Homo sapiens: one gene and its partners. Changing the gene in region 3 together with the main gene of any one other region gives a genetic interaction. Each region holds a gene or a part of one and is shown on either strand. Other genes may lie near its edges.

Evidence for each region. A genetic interaction does not mean that the proteins touch.
Region 1: changes in ALPL (region 3) and EDA together harm fitness less than expected from each alone (positive genetic interaction), as found in Homo sapiens cells (one large-scale study listed by BioGRID).
Region 2: changes in ALPL (region 3) and MAPKAPK2 together harm fitness more than expected from each alone (negative genetic interaction), as found in Homo sapiens cells (one large-scale study listed by BioGRID).
Region 4: changes in ALPL (region 3) and CDC25A together harm fitness more than expected from each alone (negative genetic interaction), as found in Homo sapiens cells (one large-scale study listed by BioGRID).

Annotation. Positions count from the first base shown.
Region 1 is NC_000023.11:70,024,790-70,028,612, reverse strand, and holds part of EDA (ectodysplasin-A), read right to left. Parts: intron 757-3,823; coding exon 577-756; intron 1-576. UniProt on the Homo sapiens protein: Cytokine which is involved in epithelial-mesenchymal signaling during morphogenesis of ectodermal organs. Functions as a ligand activating the DEATH-domain containing receptors EDAR and EDA2R. May also play a role in cell adhesion.
Region 2 is NC_000001.11:206,729,582-206,732,342, reverse strand, and holds part of MAPKAPK2 (MAP kinase-activated protein kinase 2), read right to left. Parts: intron 2,372-2,761; coding exon 2,245-2,371; intron 1,656-2,244; coding exon 1,580-1,655; intron 1,206-1,579; coding exon 1,081-1,205; intron 704-1,080; coding exon 618-703; intron 505-617; coding exon 424-504; intron 306-423; coding exon of another isoform or gene 252-305; exon of another isoform or gene 1-251. UniProt on the Homo sapiens protein: Stress-activated serine/threonine-protein kinase involved in cytokine production, endocytosis, reorganization of the cytoskeleton, cell migration, cell cycle control, chromatin remodeling, DNA damage response and transcriptional regulation.
Region 3 is NC_000001.11:21,508,122-21,512,868, forward strand, and holds the start of ALPL (alkaline phosphatase, tissue-nonspecific isozyme isoform 1 preproprotein), read left to right. Parts: upstream 1-1,301; 5' UTR 1,302-1,396; intron 1,397-4,747. UniProt on the Homo sapiens protein: Alkaline phosphatase that metabolizes various phosphate compounds and plays a key role in skeletal mineralization and adaptive thermogenesis.
Region 4 is NC_000003.12:48,174,918-48,178,740, forward strand, and holds part of CDC25A (M-phase inducer phosphatase 1), read right to left. Parts: intron 3,072-3,823; coding exon 2,937-3,071; intron 2,526-2,936; coding exon 2,454-2,525; intron 1-2,453. UniProt on the Homo sapiens protein: Tyrosine protein phosphatase which functions as a dosage-dependent inducer of mitotic progression. Directly dephosphorylates CDK1 and stimulates its kinase activity. Also dephosphorylates CDK2 in complex with cyclin-E, in vitro.

The DNA of each region.
Region 1 (3,823 bases), on a different chromosome or scaffold from region 3:
GTGCCTGGGTTTGCTTCATCCACAGCCTGAGTGACTCTTAAGTTTCTAACTTCTTGACCATTAGTGACTACTTGCTATGGGAAAAGCACTTCAGACTTCACAAGATGAAACTATCCTAGGGCTTGTCATTTTGTTCAGTCCTCAACTTTCTACTCCATAGCCTATTTCTATGCAAACATCAGCATGTGGAGCTAGATGCTGGGAATCACAGAAGATTACATCTATTCCCCACTGGAACTCCTGTGAACCACCAGGGCCTCTGTCTCTGGCTCATATGAGTTTTACTGGTCCACTACAGGGAGGCCAAGAGTCAGGGAGGGCTTGTAACAGAAGGGTTGAGATGGGGCAAGAACAGGTGGCCTGTCCTTGACAGTTTGGTAGATATAAGAAGCTAGAGCAGGCCAGGCCCTACTGGCTTGTCCAATTCCTAGTTTTACACTGGGCTAGGAGATCTGCATCCCTTATTGCACACCAACCCCATCTCCACCGTTTGAAACTGCTCTCAGGATCACCCACTCCTGCTCTCCTAAAGTACTTTAAAGGCACCTGGTGGGGTGGAGAGACAGGGGAACTCACCAGAAGGTCCCTGGAGGCCAGGGGGTCCTTGAGGACCAGGAGGACCTGGAGGACCAGGTGGTCCCATAACAGTTGTTCCTGGAATTCCAGGAATCCCTGGAATTCCTGGGGGTCCCTGGGGTCCTGGAGGTCCTGGGGGTCCTGGAGGGCCATTGGGTCCAGGAGGTCCTGCTTTCTTTCCTGAAAAATAGGATTCAGTGTTACTTTTTTTTTTGAGACGGAGTCCTGCTCTGTTGCCCAGGCTGGAGTTCAGTGGCACGATCTCGGCTCACTGCAACCTCCACCTCCCGGGTTCAAGCGATTCTCCTGCCTCAGCCTCTGGAGTAACTGGGATTACAGGCGCGTGCCACCGCGACCTGCTAATTTTTGTATTTTTAGTAGAGACGGGGTTTCACCATGTCGGCCAGGTTGGTCTCAAACTCCTGACTTCGGGTGATCTGCCTGCCTCAGCCTCCCAAAATGCTGGGATTACAGGCGTGAGCCACCGCGCCTGGCCTCAGTGTTACATTTGTAGTTATTTCCTGTGATGAGTGTACTGTCAGGAGTTCTACAGACTTCTGAGGACACAAAGTCAGCTCTCTGGGAGGCCCTGCTAAAGAGTTGGATACCTTTATCACACATCTCTGTCTCCCTGTCTCCGTCTGTCTTATGCTTTCTCTCCCCTCCCCCCACTCCCTTTTGTGAATATGCATTTACAAAGCTAGGTTTGAGCATATAGAAATAAGTGGCCCTCCAGGAGATCAGTCTGTGTCTGTGGGGAAACAGACACAGTCATGGGATAGTAGAAGTGCTACCTTAGTGGGTAGGGACCAAATGCTGAAGAGGTCAGAGAAGGTTTCAAAAAGGAGGTTACATTTCAGCTGAGTCCAAAGGATGAGAATTTCTCTACCAAGTGATTAGACCTATGGGTCACTTTGTGGTTCTTTTTAGAAAGGGCTATTGTTGAAGAATGTGGAGCTTTTATGTTTACTGCCCAGTTTGGTGGACTTGATGTCGATAACAAGAGGAAGCCGTACAGCCTGGCCTTAGGAACAGTATCAGCTCCAGGAAGGTTCCTCCAGGAGTCAGGATGTACAGGAAATGGGGGTTGGGATGGGGACAGTGCTAGTCGGGAATGAGGAATGGGAAGGAGTTTTGGAGATGGGGGAATGGAGAAGGAGGAAGAGGGGCACGGAAAGAGGAGGAGGGAGAGAGAGAGATATTGAGAAACAGGAAAGAAGCAGAGACAGAGAGTAGAGGGAGCTGAGGAGGAGGCAGCAAGTTTCACTCTCTCAGCTGACCTCTGTAAACTCTATTTTAAAAGATCTCTGGGAAAGGAAATTCTGCAAACTCCATAGTAACATGTTCCAATGTTTATTGCCCCTCACTGCTCACTGTTAGGAAGTTCTCTGGTATATTAAATGATGTCCCTCTTGTGGCAGTTTAAGCTCTTATTCTATTTGTGTAGACAGAGAAGAATATACATATACATAATAATCCTTATATATGAAAAGAAATTAAGTTACCCACCAACCCCTATTTCTATAGGCTAAATAATCCAGCTTCCCAAAGTCTTTCCTCAGAAGTCCCATTCTCAAATGTATTATTAATCATGCCCACCAACTCTTCCCCCTTTCCTCCTTGCTATCCTTCTAGAACAATCTCGACCCTCCTATTTCATATTCCAGTCCTTTCAACATTCCCACCAGGATGTAGTTATCTTAAATGAGTCATAACTGTGGTCTTGAACCAAAACCTCCAGCTCTTCCTGTTGACTTCCTCTGCTCTGTGCAGCTCCACTCAAAGACTACATGTAGGCACAGGTCTTCTTCCTTCCTTCACCACCTTCTCACAATTTTATGGAAAGTTTCAGGAATGGAAGCCTGTTTCCAGACTTCATCACAATGTCTTCACCTGAGGTAGTTTCTTAGTTTTAAATACAACCTTCTCTAGTCTCACTAAAAACCTTCTTACTGACTCTGACTTCTTGCTCCCCAGACACTTAGGCAGGAGAATCTTGTCCTGATTTATCAGGTCCTCCCTTAAGAACAATGCCTCATGGCCAAGAAACCCAATCCTCATGGCAATGCCACTCAAGAGGCCATTTGTCTATGTCTAACCACATCTGCATTTGGAATGAAACCATGGGGTCATCGTGGGGTCTCTTCCTCAGAAAGGAAGGAAAGGAAGGTCCAGAGAACATCTCTCCCAGAAGAGTCCCTGTAGCCTTAAAGACCTAGAGGCATGAGCTTTAGAGGTTTCTCTGCACTTAGCAGCAAAAGATTGGATCTGCCCCGTTTCTAGATCTAGCCAATTTCAAGATGCTGAACAGGAAAACCATCTCCTTTCAGATTTGGGCAGCTTCCAAATCAGGCTTATTCAGAGCCCAAGTTTCAATTCCAGCTAGTGTAGTGGAAAGAACACAAAATCTGTACTCAGGAGATAAGGATGTAAGCCCCAGCTCTGCCACAGACACACTTTGGGCAAATCCCTTCCTCTCCTTGAGCCTTAGTTTCTACATCTGTGAAACAAGGAGCTTGGCCTCAATGATTTCTCTGTTTCCTCATGAGACTGAGTTTCTATAAGGAGGGGTGGCTTACCCCTTGCAGTCAGGAAGCTTTCTTAGCCTGGTTGTAAGGTTTGCTTCTCCCTCCTTATTTTCTAGGTGGCACAGACACAGAAGTTGGTGCATATTAGGCTGTCCTGTGTTCCAAGATTTCCAAGCCTAACAGTGATTTTCAAGCTAGAGGGTGTTCTGTGGGTAGCACAAACTTCACCTTCAAGAATGTGAGTCTCCTGTAATTGCTAATGTAATTTTGGAAGAATTAGAGCCAGAAACTCCTCCAGTCCAAGAGACTAATGGTTGCAGTGAAAACAGAGAATGTTCACTTATGAAAATGTTAGAAGGCATTTGAGAAAAAAAAAAACTCCTGCTTTGTTCCAGTTCTGCAGCTGGTCCTCTGCTTCTCTGCAACAAGGGTTAGGCAAGTGAGCTTCTCACACTTGCATACTTACACAAAGTTGGGCCCAGAGAAGAGAATGTACAAAATGACCCCTGGAGCAAGAGGATAACTTCAGAGGATTGACTCCCTTCTCTCGATTTCCTTACTTTAACAGAACACCTCATGATATAAAAGCCCAGAGACGTTTGTACTTAGAAACATACCCTATGTAGTGTTAGATGAAAGAATATACACATTCCTTTCAAAGCTAAACTTCATCAAAGGAGTATTTCCTTAACCTTTTAGCTAAGCCCAAAATCAAAGAA
Region 2 (2,761 bases), about 190 Mb from region 3:
CCCCCAGTGATCCCGCAGGATAGGAGGAAGAGACTTGGGCCAGGAGTCAGGAAACCTGGGTCCGGTCTGCCCCAACCAGTCACCAGCTGCGTGACCTTGAGCAGACTGCCCTCCGCCTCTGGGCCTCAGTTTCTCTTCTGCAAAATGAGAAGATGATACCAGATGGTCTTTAAGGTCCCATTAGAGACCCAGGGAATAAAAGGATTCTAAGAAACAGCACTGAGTTTGGACAGGAACACAGAATCCTCTGCTCACAACCTGGTCAGCCAAGTGGCCTGGTCGCTGTTCTTGTCATGAAGACACCCCTGGGATGAGAGAGGCAGAATCAAGCTCTCCCCTACCAGCACCACGCCTCACACCTGGGCACTCCCCGCAAGCCGCCCACCCCACCTGGAGCCCCTCTCACCCAGTGGTGCCCCTCACCTTGACATCCTCCCACCGCTCCTTGTCCTCCTTCAGGACCCGGCTGGTGTGCAGTGGGGTTTGAGGGACCTTTGTTGATTGCTGAGAAGAGAGAAAAGGGGTCCGAGTGAAAGCCTGGGGTAGGGTCCTGGCTAAGACTCTGTCCTGTGGAATAGTCCCGTGAGACCCAAGGCTCCCCAGCCTGCCGAGCTTACCATGATCCAAGGGTGGTTCATAAACTCGGTGATGGTCATTCTCTGGGTGGGCTCTGTTTTCAGCAGATTCCGAATGAGCATCTTCACTGTGGGGTGGGACAGGGGGCAGTGACAGCTCAGGGGTCACTCTCCCTGGCCTGCTCCTTTCCCCAGTTTTCATGGGGAAACCAGGTTCAAAGAGGGGGTGCATGGAGGCAGGCTGCCGGAGCAACTGGCCCCAAGGACCATTACGGCTGTACCACTTGAGAGGCCCTGCACAGCCCCACAGCCTTGGCCCTGCCTCCAGCCCTCCACACAGGCAAAATGAAGCAGGACGCACCCCGCAGGCGTGGGCATAGGTGCTAACCCACAGTTACACCACGCACATGAGATGGAGGCCCATACATGTGTCTGCGTGTACACACATACACACACACACACACACACGGGCTCTTCCCCTTGTCCTGAAAGCCTGGGTTCTTACCTTCCTCTGATACTTCTGACCATTCTGGGTTGGGAAATTCATACTGGCCCATTCGGATGCGAGTCTTCATGCCCGGAGAGATGGCAAGGCCGTGGTTGGAGTAGAAGGGGGGATACCCACACAGCCTGCATCAACAGGAGGAAGGAAGTGGGAGACAGAACAGCTGTCACTTAGTGGCCCTGTACCAGGAACAGGATGAGAAACAGGCTCTTCTCCTTGTAAAGGTCACAGAGAAATCAGGGCTTATTGACACAGGCACAATATACAAAGTCAAGCCCGGGGCCCGGGAATCCAGCATAGCAAGTATCTAAGGCGCACACTTTCCAGCCCATGAGCTGGTTTACACCCGCCACTTAGCTATCGGAACTGAGAGAAGGGGCACGCAGGGGACTCCCCTGTACAAAGGGGAATGCTAACGTCTGCCTCTTCCTCTTGTCCTGGAGAAGTACAGGCCGCCCTGACTCCCTGCCCCACCCAGCCCCCTCCCCAGCACACTCACAGGATGTACATGATGACACCCAGGGACCACATGTCACAGGACTTGTCATACTTCTCTGGACCCAGCACTTCTGGAGCTGCAAATCAAAGGTCAACATGGGTGGGCCGGCCCTCAGAACCCTGTGATCCACTCAGTTTCTCTGTGAAAGATGCTCCCCATCCCAACCTTTCAGCCTATCATGAGGTGGCAGCAGTTGGGGCACAGAAGGAAGAGCCAAAGCCCAGCCCAGGGACTGGAACAGAACATCCTCCTCCATGAGGAACCTGGAACTAGGAGCTTAAGATTCTAAAAATCCTGAACTGCATGAGACTTTCAGGCCCATGCCGTTCATTTAATTTCACAGATGCTCTGAACATGCTTTGAAAGCTTCTTCCATGCCAATCAGCTGTGGCTCCAGAACAAGACCTGGGTCCAGACTCCATGGAGAATCTGATGGAAACCATGGCTCTTCTCAGAAAGATCCCAGCAGATCCTTTCCTACAATTTCTCAACTGTAGCTTCGCTCTGACAAGCCCTACTTCTCAGCAGGTCCCAGCAGAACCAGCACCAGAAGGGGCCATACAGACACAACTCTCCTAGGATTTGCGGCCCCCCAGATAGCCAAGAGGAGGGGCTGAGAAAAGTTCTGGGAAAAGCCTAGGTCCCTGGGCCCCCTGTGGACTTACCCACATAGTACGGTGTATAACAAGGAGTGGTCAAAGAGTTGTGGCTGGTGGTTTCCTTGGCAAAGCCAAAGTCAGTGAGTTTCAGGATGGCGTTGGGCCTTTTGGAGGTGTATAAGAGATTCTCAGGCTACAGAAAGAGAGACAGAAAAATAGCAACCCTGCTGGACCTGGGAGGGGCTATCAGAAACGAAAAGGATCCTGGTTCCTCCCTTCCTCTACTCATCCAGCAACCATTTGCCTATCCTGGGCACTGCCCACCACGAGGAGTGGCAGCTCTCTATGGGCAGGTGCCTGCCTCTGCAGGGTTTCCAGAGTGCCTGGAGATAACAGACTGACACACAGAACCCGCAGTAAACACCACAGGAACAGAGAAACCAAGAGTGTGACTGAGGGGTTCTGCCTGAGGAGAACCACAGGGCTGAGTGGGGCCAGAGAATGCTTCACTACTGGGTTTAGGGGTTTGCCCATGGGCAGAGAGGGCAAGGCCCTACAAGGCAGAGAATGGCATGCTCAGGAA
Region 3 (4,747 bases):
TCTGGGCCTCAGTTTTCTCCTCTGGAAAATGGAGCTTTTGGAAGTTAATGCATGCACAGTGCCTGGCCCTGAGACTGGCATGGAGTGAGTGGAAGAGAGGTTGCCTGACCTGGCTAAAATTGGTTCTCTGGGCAGACATTTTCCCAAGGGCCACTGAGAAGACCCTCCTGTTAGGAGTCAGTGAGCTCTGTCGCTGGAGGCATTCAAACAGAGCCTGCGGACTTCTCACTGCGAAGTTGCCCAGAGAATTCAGTGCTCAGAGGAAAGGGAGTGGTTATTCCATCAGAGCTGGTTCCCCAGGAGCGGGAGCAGGGCCTGTAGCACCCAGCCTCTGTCCCTGGCTCCCGTCTATCCGGGATTTTAGCGTTTCCTCTGTAGTTTTCAAGCACTGTCTCATATGACTCTCGCACCAGCGAGAGGCCAGGGGAGATGGTGTCTGCCTGTTAAAGAGGGGCAGGCTGGTCCACATAGGTCAAGTGACTTGGCCAAGGTCACCAGAGCAGAGTTTTGAACTTGAGCTGTCTGACTCAACTGCCTGGGAAGTGCCTGCCCCTCCTCTGGCATCCAGGGAGCATGTCCTGGGGCTCTGGCTGGGACATAGCCGGACACCTGCGGGCCCTTTACGTCTCTAAAGAGAGAAAGAGGGAAGGGCCCCTGTCTAGGGGGTGGTTTCCCTCCAGATGCCACCCCTCCGAGGTCCCCTTCTGCTTCTTCTTGCGGTAGCCAGGGAGGCAGCCCACGGGCAGGGAAGCGGGGGTGGGGGTGCAGAGTCAGAGGTGCACGTGGACAGAGACAGAGAGACAGGGACACGTGGGCAGAGACGGATAAAGACAGAGACCCAGAGAAAGCCAGATATGTTGACAGACACAGAGACAGACGCCAGAGAGGAAGGCAGACAAAGAGACGGGTGGAGACAAAGACTCCCACCAAGAGACGCAGAAGGAAGATGCCGACGGTAAAGACAAAACAGGAGACGCGCGCAAGGAGCAGGTCAGAGCCCAGGCTCGCTGAGAGAGGAAGGGCTGGGCTGGGGCAGCCCGGAGGCAGAGAGACCGAGAGTGCGGGGCGGGCGAGGGACGCCAGGGCCGCGTCACCCCAGCCCGTTCCTAGCTCCGCTCCCGGCAGGGGGCGCCCTGGCCTCGTGGCACGACCGGCCCGCGGGGCGCGGGGCTCGGGCCGGGGGCGGGGCCGGGGCCGGGCTGGGGAGGGGTTGGGGCCGGGGGCGGGGGAGGGGGCGGGCTGCCCGGGCCTCACTCGGGCCCCGCGGCCGCCTTTATAAGGCGGCGGGGGTGGTGGCCCGGGCCGCGTTGCGCTCCCGCCACTCCGCGCCCGCTATCCTGGCTCCGTGCTCCCACGCGCTTGTGCCTGGACGGACCCTCGCCAGTGCTCTGCGCAGGTAAGGATTCGACGCTGCCCCGCGCCCTGGTTCCCCAGGGCCCCAGCGGACGTGGTCCATCCCCTTCTGCATCCTCCGCTGGCCCCGTGGTTGAACTTTAATGGCAGGGCCGGGGTCTCCAGCGCCACGCCGCCCACAGCAGCCCATTCGGGACGCCCTGCAATTGGTCCTGCCCCTGTCCTCCCGCGCATCCCAAGCTCCCGGCGCGCGCTCTGGGCGGGACAGGAGATTGGACGTGGCGCCCGCGGAGCCGGCGAACTCAGGGGACCGCGCTCGGGACCGCCCTGCAGTCCCAGGGTCTCCTACCTCCCGAGCCGCTGCCTGGGACCCTGCGCTCTGTCTGGGCACCTGCCCTTGGTGCCCCGTGACTGAGCCCCTCCTGGTGCCTCCTTAGCCGTAGCTCTAGAGACCTGGGCTGCCAACCCCAAGGCCTCGTGGCCTGGCGCCCTCCCAGGCGTCCCACCTGACCCGGTGGGGTCTAAAGCAGTTTGGTTTGGGAGGAGGAGAGGGCAGGAGGCGCTTGGAATGGGGGGCGTGGCGGGAGGAGACAGAGGACACCCGCGTGGGTGTCAAAGTGTGGGCACCCACTGTGGGCACCGCAGCTGTGGGGCAAAGCTCTGGAGCCCGCGAAGCCGAAGGAGCCTGCCGCCCCCTTTAGGCTTTGCGAGGTGGGCCTCCCAGGGCTGCTTCCCTGCCCAGTCTTGGTAAGAAAGGGTTAAACGCAGGTCTCAGCAGAAAGGCAGGAGGCCGAGGAAAGCCTCCCCCACTCCCCATTGTGCCTTATGACTCTTTTTCAACACATAATGGGGTCGAAGGCGGGGCCTTTACAAAGGCCTCTGGGTGGAGGGTGAAATTCCTTGAGATCAAAAGAGGGGGCGATTCTTGGGCCAGGAAGGGCTTTGGGCCCTGGGAAAAAGTCAGACCGCTCAGGTGGGCCCAGCTGCCCAGGGAGGCAGGGGTTGGGTCCCAGCCTCAGTGTAGATACTGCAACTGTTTTTTGAAGGCCTACCGTGCGTAGAGGGACCTGCTCTGACATCTCATGTACATCATTTCATTTTACAAATGGGGAAACTGAGGCTTAGACAATTTAAGTAAGTGGTGGGACCAGGGTTTGAATCCAGACTCCAAACTCTGCAGCCCTAGCGTCCTGCTCCCACTGTGTTGCCTAAGAGATAGGGGGCTGAGCCTTGGTTTTGTCTTCCGGCTCCTCCTGGGCTCAGCCCGCTCTTCCTCCACTCTCCAGTCTTGCTCTTTCCAACTGTTTAGTCCTCCCCACCTGTGGGTGTCCCCACGCTGTCCTGCCCCAGCCATCCCACTCCCTGGCCCCATGCATCTTGTTCCTGTGTCACCTTTTTCTTTCTTTAACTGAATACCTGTGAATTCCCTCAGAAGAGGCCCCTGGACACAGCTTCTCAACATCCCAACTGGTGAAGACTAGGCTGAGTGATGATCCCGGTCCATGTGCCCATTTGTAAAAAGGGGTGTATTCCCCTTTCGGGACTATTGTGAGGAATAAAACTGAACTGAGGCCAGAACAAGATGCTATCTTCATTCAGCAAATACTTAAGCATCCGCCGTGTGCCAAGCTCTGTTCTAGGTGCCGGGAATGCCACAGTAAATCAGCCAAAAGCCCTCTTCTGGATTGGATGTTTGCATAACAAAATTCTTTCAGGCTTTGAAACTGTCAGAATTCACAGTGTAGACTTGAAATCAAGCTATTCATAAGGAAGGAGATTAAGACGCAATCACCTGTAAAATGGATTGGCCAACCTTTGGCCCTCACTTTAGCAAAGGCAGCCTTGCTGTGGGACCTGGGATCAGTTCTGTTCCCTCTCTGTGCCTCGGCCTCCTCCCATAAGCTGTGGAGATCAATAGTGCCTACCAGTGGTGAGGTCTAGATATGATGAATGCTTGCGAAGGGTTTAAGCTGGTACCTGTGCTTAAGAAAATCCTGGCTATCCTCAGCTCTCTTCTCAGCAGAAAATGCAATGCGGAGACTGGAAGTTGGGTTATGTGCCTACCCTGCCTCTGAACCTGTTACCCACTTCTGCCCAGGCCCTTCCCATCCTGTTGGGCTACACATGTGGGGTGGCATGGTGCCCTCTTTGCTCACACTCAGATGCCACCTTCTGTCGCCATCCTAAACACAGCCTGGGCTGGGAGCGCAGAGCTCCATGATGAGATCAGCCCTGGAGCCATCATCTCTGCAGCGCTTCCTGCCCTCTGCCTGTTCTTGTGCCTCACCGTGTCCTAGCTCAGGACCAAACTCAGCCCTGTTCTGTCCCATGACTTACATACCCAACATTCCCTGCAAGCTGGATATGATCTTGGAAAGGGGAAGTGAGTTGCCCAGAGGCACACAGATGCTACCTGAGGAGCTGGGGCTGGAGCCTGCGTATCTAGAATTCCAAATCTAGCAATCTCCATGCTGTACCCATCTCTGGGCATATGAGGCCTTTTAATCCAGGGAGTAGGATCCAGTAGCAGAGCCCGAGTTCTCACCTTGAAATCAGTCTGACTTGGCTTTTTAATACAAAACCCAGAGCTCTGAGAGAACATTGCTGGGAGAGTGAGCAAGCTGGGCTGAGAACCAGCACTCAGAAATCTCCATGTGGCCACAGGAATGCTGACTTGGCTTCCCAGCACCATGTCGTCGTCCTTGGCAGGCTGGAGCTGGGCTTTGTGGTATGTTAGATTTGTTTTTTTTCTTCTGGAGATGTCCTCACTTTCAGAGGGCAGTTAGGGGCAGTAGACTGAAGGTTCATTCCCAGCACTGCCATGCGACCCTGGACAAGTCACCTTCCCTTTCGAAGCCTCAGTTTTCTCATCTGCAATATGGGTTAAAATTATATACTTTGCAGGGTCGCAAGATCATAAATGGTTTTCCAACTTTGGGCTGAACCAGCATTGATGTTATTAAGACATTCATATTTCCTGTGGAGCAATTTCAAAAGCAGTTAACTTTATCCCTACCAGGTGATCCTGAGGGCCTGAGGGAAGTCCACGTTTAGGTCACAAAAGCCTACACAGCAGGGAAAACACTGGTTTGGGGGCTGGTGTCTTGGATTCCAATCGCCAGCTGTGTGACCTGAGGCAAGTCACTTTACCTCTCTGAGTGTCAAGCTCATAGGAGGCCCCCAACATCAAGATATGATGCTCAGTGTCTGAAGAACATAGTCTCCGTATTTTTCTGCCTCCTTGTACCAGCTCCCAACCCCCCCGCCAACACTTCGTTAATTGCTCCCAGAAAAACTCTATGCTTAAAGTTTTCCATGCTTAAATTCTCAGCCTCACTGTGGCATGAAATCAATTGTTTGCATTGAATTTGACTTCTCAAATTAAGGGGTAAAA
Region 4 (3,823 bases), on a different chromosome or scaffold from region 3:
AGTTAAGATGGTAAATTTGGAGGGAGTGGGGATGGGCAGAGTAGCAAATGCCTTTCAAAATTGTGTTCAAAGTCTTTTTTTCTACTTGGTCTTTTAAAGACTAATTTCCCAGGCTGGGCGCGGTGGCTCACGCCTGTAATCCCAACACTGTGGGATCACTTGAGGTCACAAGTTCAATAACAGCCTGGCCAACATGAAGAAACCCCATCTCTATTAAAAATACAAAAAAATTAGCCAGGTGTGGTGGTGCGTGCCTTTAATCCCAGCTACCCAGGAGGCTGAGGCACGAGAATCACTTGAAACCAGGAGGTGGTGGTTGCAGTGAGCTAAGATTTGCACCACTGCACTCCAGCCTGGGTGACAGAGCAAGACTCTGTCTCAATAAATAAATAAATAAATAAAGACAAATTTTCCAGAGCCCAAGGGAAGCCAATCTGACCAGTGGTAGCAAGAGTCAGCTCTCTAAACGCATCTCAGCCTATTCTCGACTCCATGTGTCTTGGCCTGGCTTTTCCTTCTGCACAGAATGTCCTTTCACATCTCAGTAAACCATTCATTTTCAAGTTGATGCTAACATTTCAATGTCACTTCTTTGAAATCTTCCTGATAGTCCCCAGTAGAATGGATCACTCCCACATCTGCTCCCATAGAGACCGGGGATTTTCTTCCTCTTTTGTGTGAAGTTTATTTTCCATTACAGCTCCCAGCAATGGTTAGTTTGTAATAACCATTTGTGGAAGACATTTCCCCACTATTAAGAGCTTACAAGCCCATGCTTATGACTCTAAAATCAAATCTATAAAACTAACAGCCACTTCCAAAGTGTTCTCACATTTTATGTAATTTTATGCCTATCAAAATGACCTGGTAAATTTACTCATAACATTTGTACTGCGTTAACATATTTTCTCAAAAGCTATGCACATGAATGTACTATAATCCATAAGTGATCTCAAAACTGTAGCTTGGCTGGGCACGGTGGCTCATGCCTGTAATCCCAGCACTTTGGGAGGCAGGTGGATGGATCACCTGAGGTCAAGAGTTCGAGACCAGCCTGGCCAACATAGTGAAACCTCGTCTCTACTAAAAATACCAAAAAAATTAGCCGGGAGTGGTGGCGTAAGCCTGTAGTCCCAGCTACTCAGAAGGCTGAGCCAGAAGAAGCACTTGAACCCAGGAGGCAGAGGTTGCAGCAAGTCAAGACTACACCACTGCACTGCACCCCAGCCTGGGCAACAGAGGGAGACTCTGTCTCAAAAACAAAACAAAACAAACAAACAAAAAAACTGTAGCTCATTTGTTCTGTAATTATAGTTCAGGTTATTGAGAATTAAAAAATATGAACTTATCAATTTAGATGTGTACCTAAGGGTGTATATCTCTGAACATACAGGTGTATATATCTGTATAGGCACATTCTTGCTTCTAACTTTGAAAGTATCCCTATGATGAAAACACGAATCTATAGCATGTGTATGTGTGTGTATATATATGTGATTTTGAATATATATACACACATACACTATAGATTCTGTATCTACATATACTATGCTTTCTGTTTGAAAGTATCCCTGATGGAAACACAAATCTATACTGTGTATGTGTGTGTGTGAGTATATATATATATATATATATATATATAAAATATATATTATATATAATTTTTAAAATCGAAAATATCTACCTGAAAATACCCAGCCTCAGGTAGGTATTTTCAATGAAAAACAAAACAAAACAAAACAAACAAACAAAACAGCAACAAAAAACATCCAGCCAGGCACAGTGGCTCATGCCTGTAATCCCAGCACTTTGGGAGGTCGAGGTGGGCAGATCACCTGAGGTCAGGAGATCGAGACTAGCCTGGCCAACATAATGTAACCCCGTCTCTACTGAAAATACAAAGATTAGCTGGGTGTGGTGGCAGGCACCTGTAATCCCAGCTACTCGGGAGGCTGAGGCAGGAGAATCACTTGAACCTGGGAGGCAGAGGTTGCAGTGAGCCAAGATTGTGCCACTGCACTCTAGAATGGGCAACAAGAGCGAGACTCCGTCTCAAAAAAAAAAACAAAAAACACAGAAACAAAAAAAATCCTGTGAGTTACTGTTGCTTGTCTAATTTTATGCTAGGTTCTGTGGAATATAAATGAGAATAACCTAAAAAAAGTAAAGTATTCAGGCTAAAGGCTTCAGATAGGCTTTTTTCAAACTGACTAGATGGTAAAAGCTAGGAATGACCATGGTCCCTCCTAACCCACACTCCTTATACATCAGGAGACATGCAGAGAGATATCATGACTAAAGGTCATAATTTGTAGGTAGCCAAAGTGAGGCCTAAAACCCAGATCCCCAAATCCTATCATGCATTTCAATCTTTGGCTATACTCAACTAAGGACTACTCTGTCCAGTGCCCCAATCACGCAGGGCTTCCTCCAGACACACTAGAACAACTCACAAGGTTTGTAGTTCTCATGACGAGAGGAGCTGTCCAGAGGCTTGCCATGCACGAGGGGGTCTCCTCCTCATTCTAAAGAAACAGAAAAACTGATTTTAAAAAGAGCCTGTAGAGACTAACATTTGTTTAAGTGCTTTAGGTGTGTTTCTCCCTGAACAATACCAGATAGGCCTGGATAGGAAGTATCCTTAATGTACCATCCTATACCGTTCTGATTTCATGTTTCTTGCATATAGATTGTTAGTTAGCTCCTTCAGGGTAAGAAGGATCATGTGTCTTCTTTTGATGCCCCCATCCCCCAATCCAAAGGATTTAATAAGGCTGGTAGCCCTATTATTAAATGAATTATCACCAAATGAACAAAAATATCAGCTAAGCAAGCCCCGGGGAACTGCTGTTGCTGTTCTTTTTCACATCACATGCCTTCTCCAGAGGTAATTAATTAGTAGAACAAATAGGAACACACACACACACACACGGTACCTTCAGATTCTCTCCATCGAGAAGGTCCACGAAGCCATCATCCTCATCAGACAAAGTGGCTGTCACAGGTGACTGGGGTGTAAAAAGAGGAATGAAATTCCCTGGTTCACTGCTATCTCTTTCATTTGAGGAAAGCTGTAAGACAAAATTCATGGATTAATAATGAGAGCTCTGATCCACTTTCATTTCCTTGAATGGGTCACTAGTTTTTATGATGAAAACATACTATGTTATACTTGTTATACAAAGCAAAATTTTAGCCATTACTGATTATATGAAAATGTATCCCAAGATTATAAATGATTTGATGACCACACACAGCCCTGAGTAGTCAGTAGCCTTTACAGAGAACTCTTGCCAGAAGCAATTCACCTTATAATGGGTACTAGAGATAGCCTCTTGTGAAGAACAAGGTTTCTTTTATTAGAAGGTTGCATCAGTGAACACCGATCAGCATTGAGGACTGTGACAGTATGAGAATCTGCTGAAATGAGTTAGGGCAAGCAGATGCAAATCTCTATAAAGACCATAAAATGGCCTAGAGAATGCACTTATATATAACTCCAGTTCTGACAGGGGGGAATAAAGGGTAACTTCCTTCTATAAAATCTATCCTCGTTCTTTAGACTTGGGATTTAAATGCTCAGTTTTTAAACGAGGAATTACTGTGTGCCAGATACTACGATATAATCTTTATACATATAATCCAATAGAAGCCTCACAATACACTAAAGGTAGCTAATCCTTTCCTTTTTCTTTAGCAAATCAGGAAACTGGTGCTTAAGAGGTTACCAAGATTATACACCTCATCTGTTTGACTCCAAAATCCAAACTCTTCTCACCACACTATCTCCCTAGGAGAAAACCATTCCTGGAATTAAAATGGC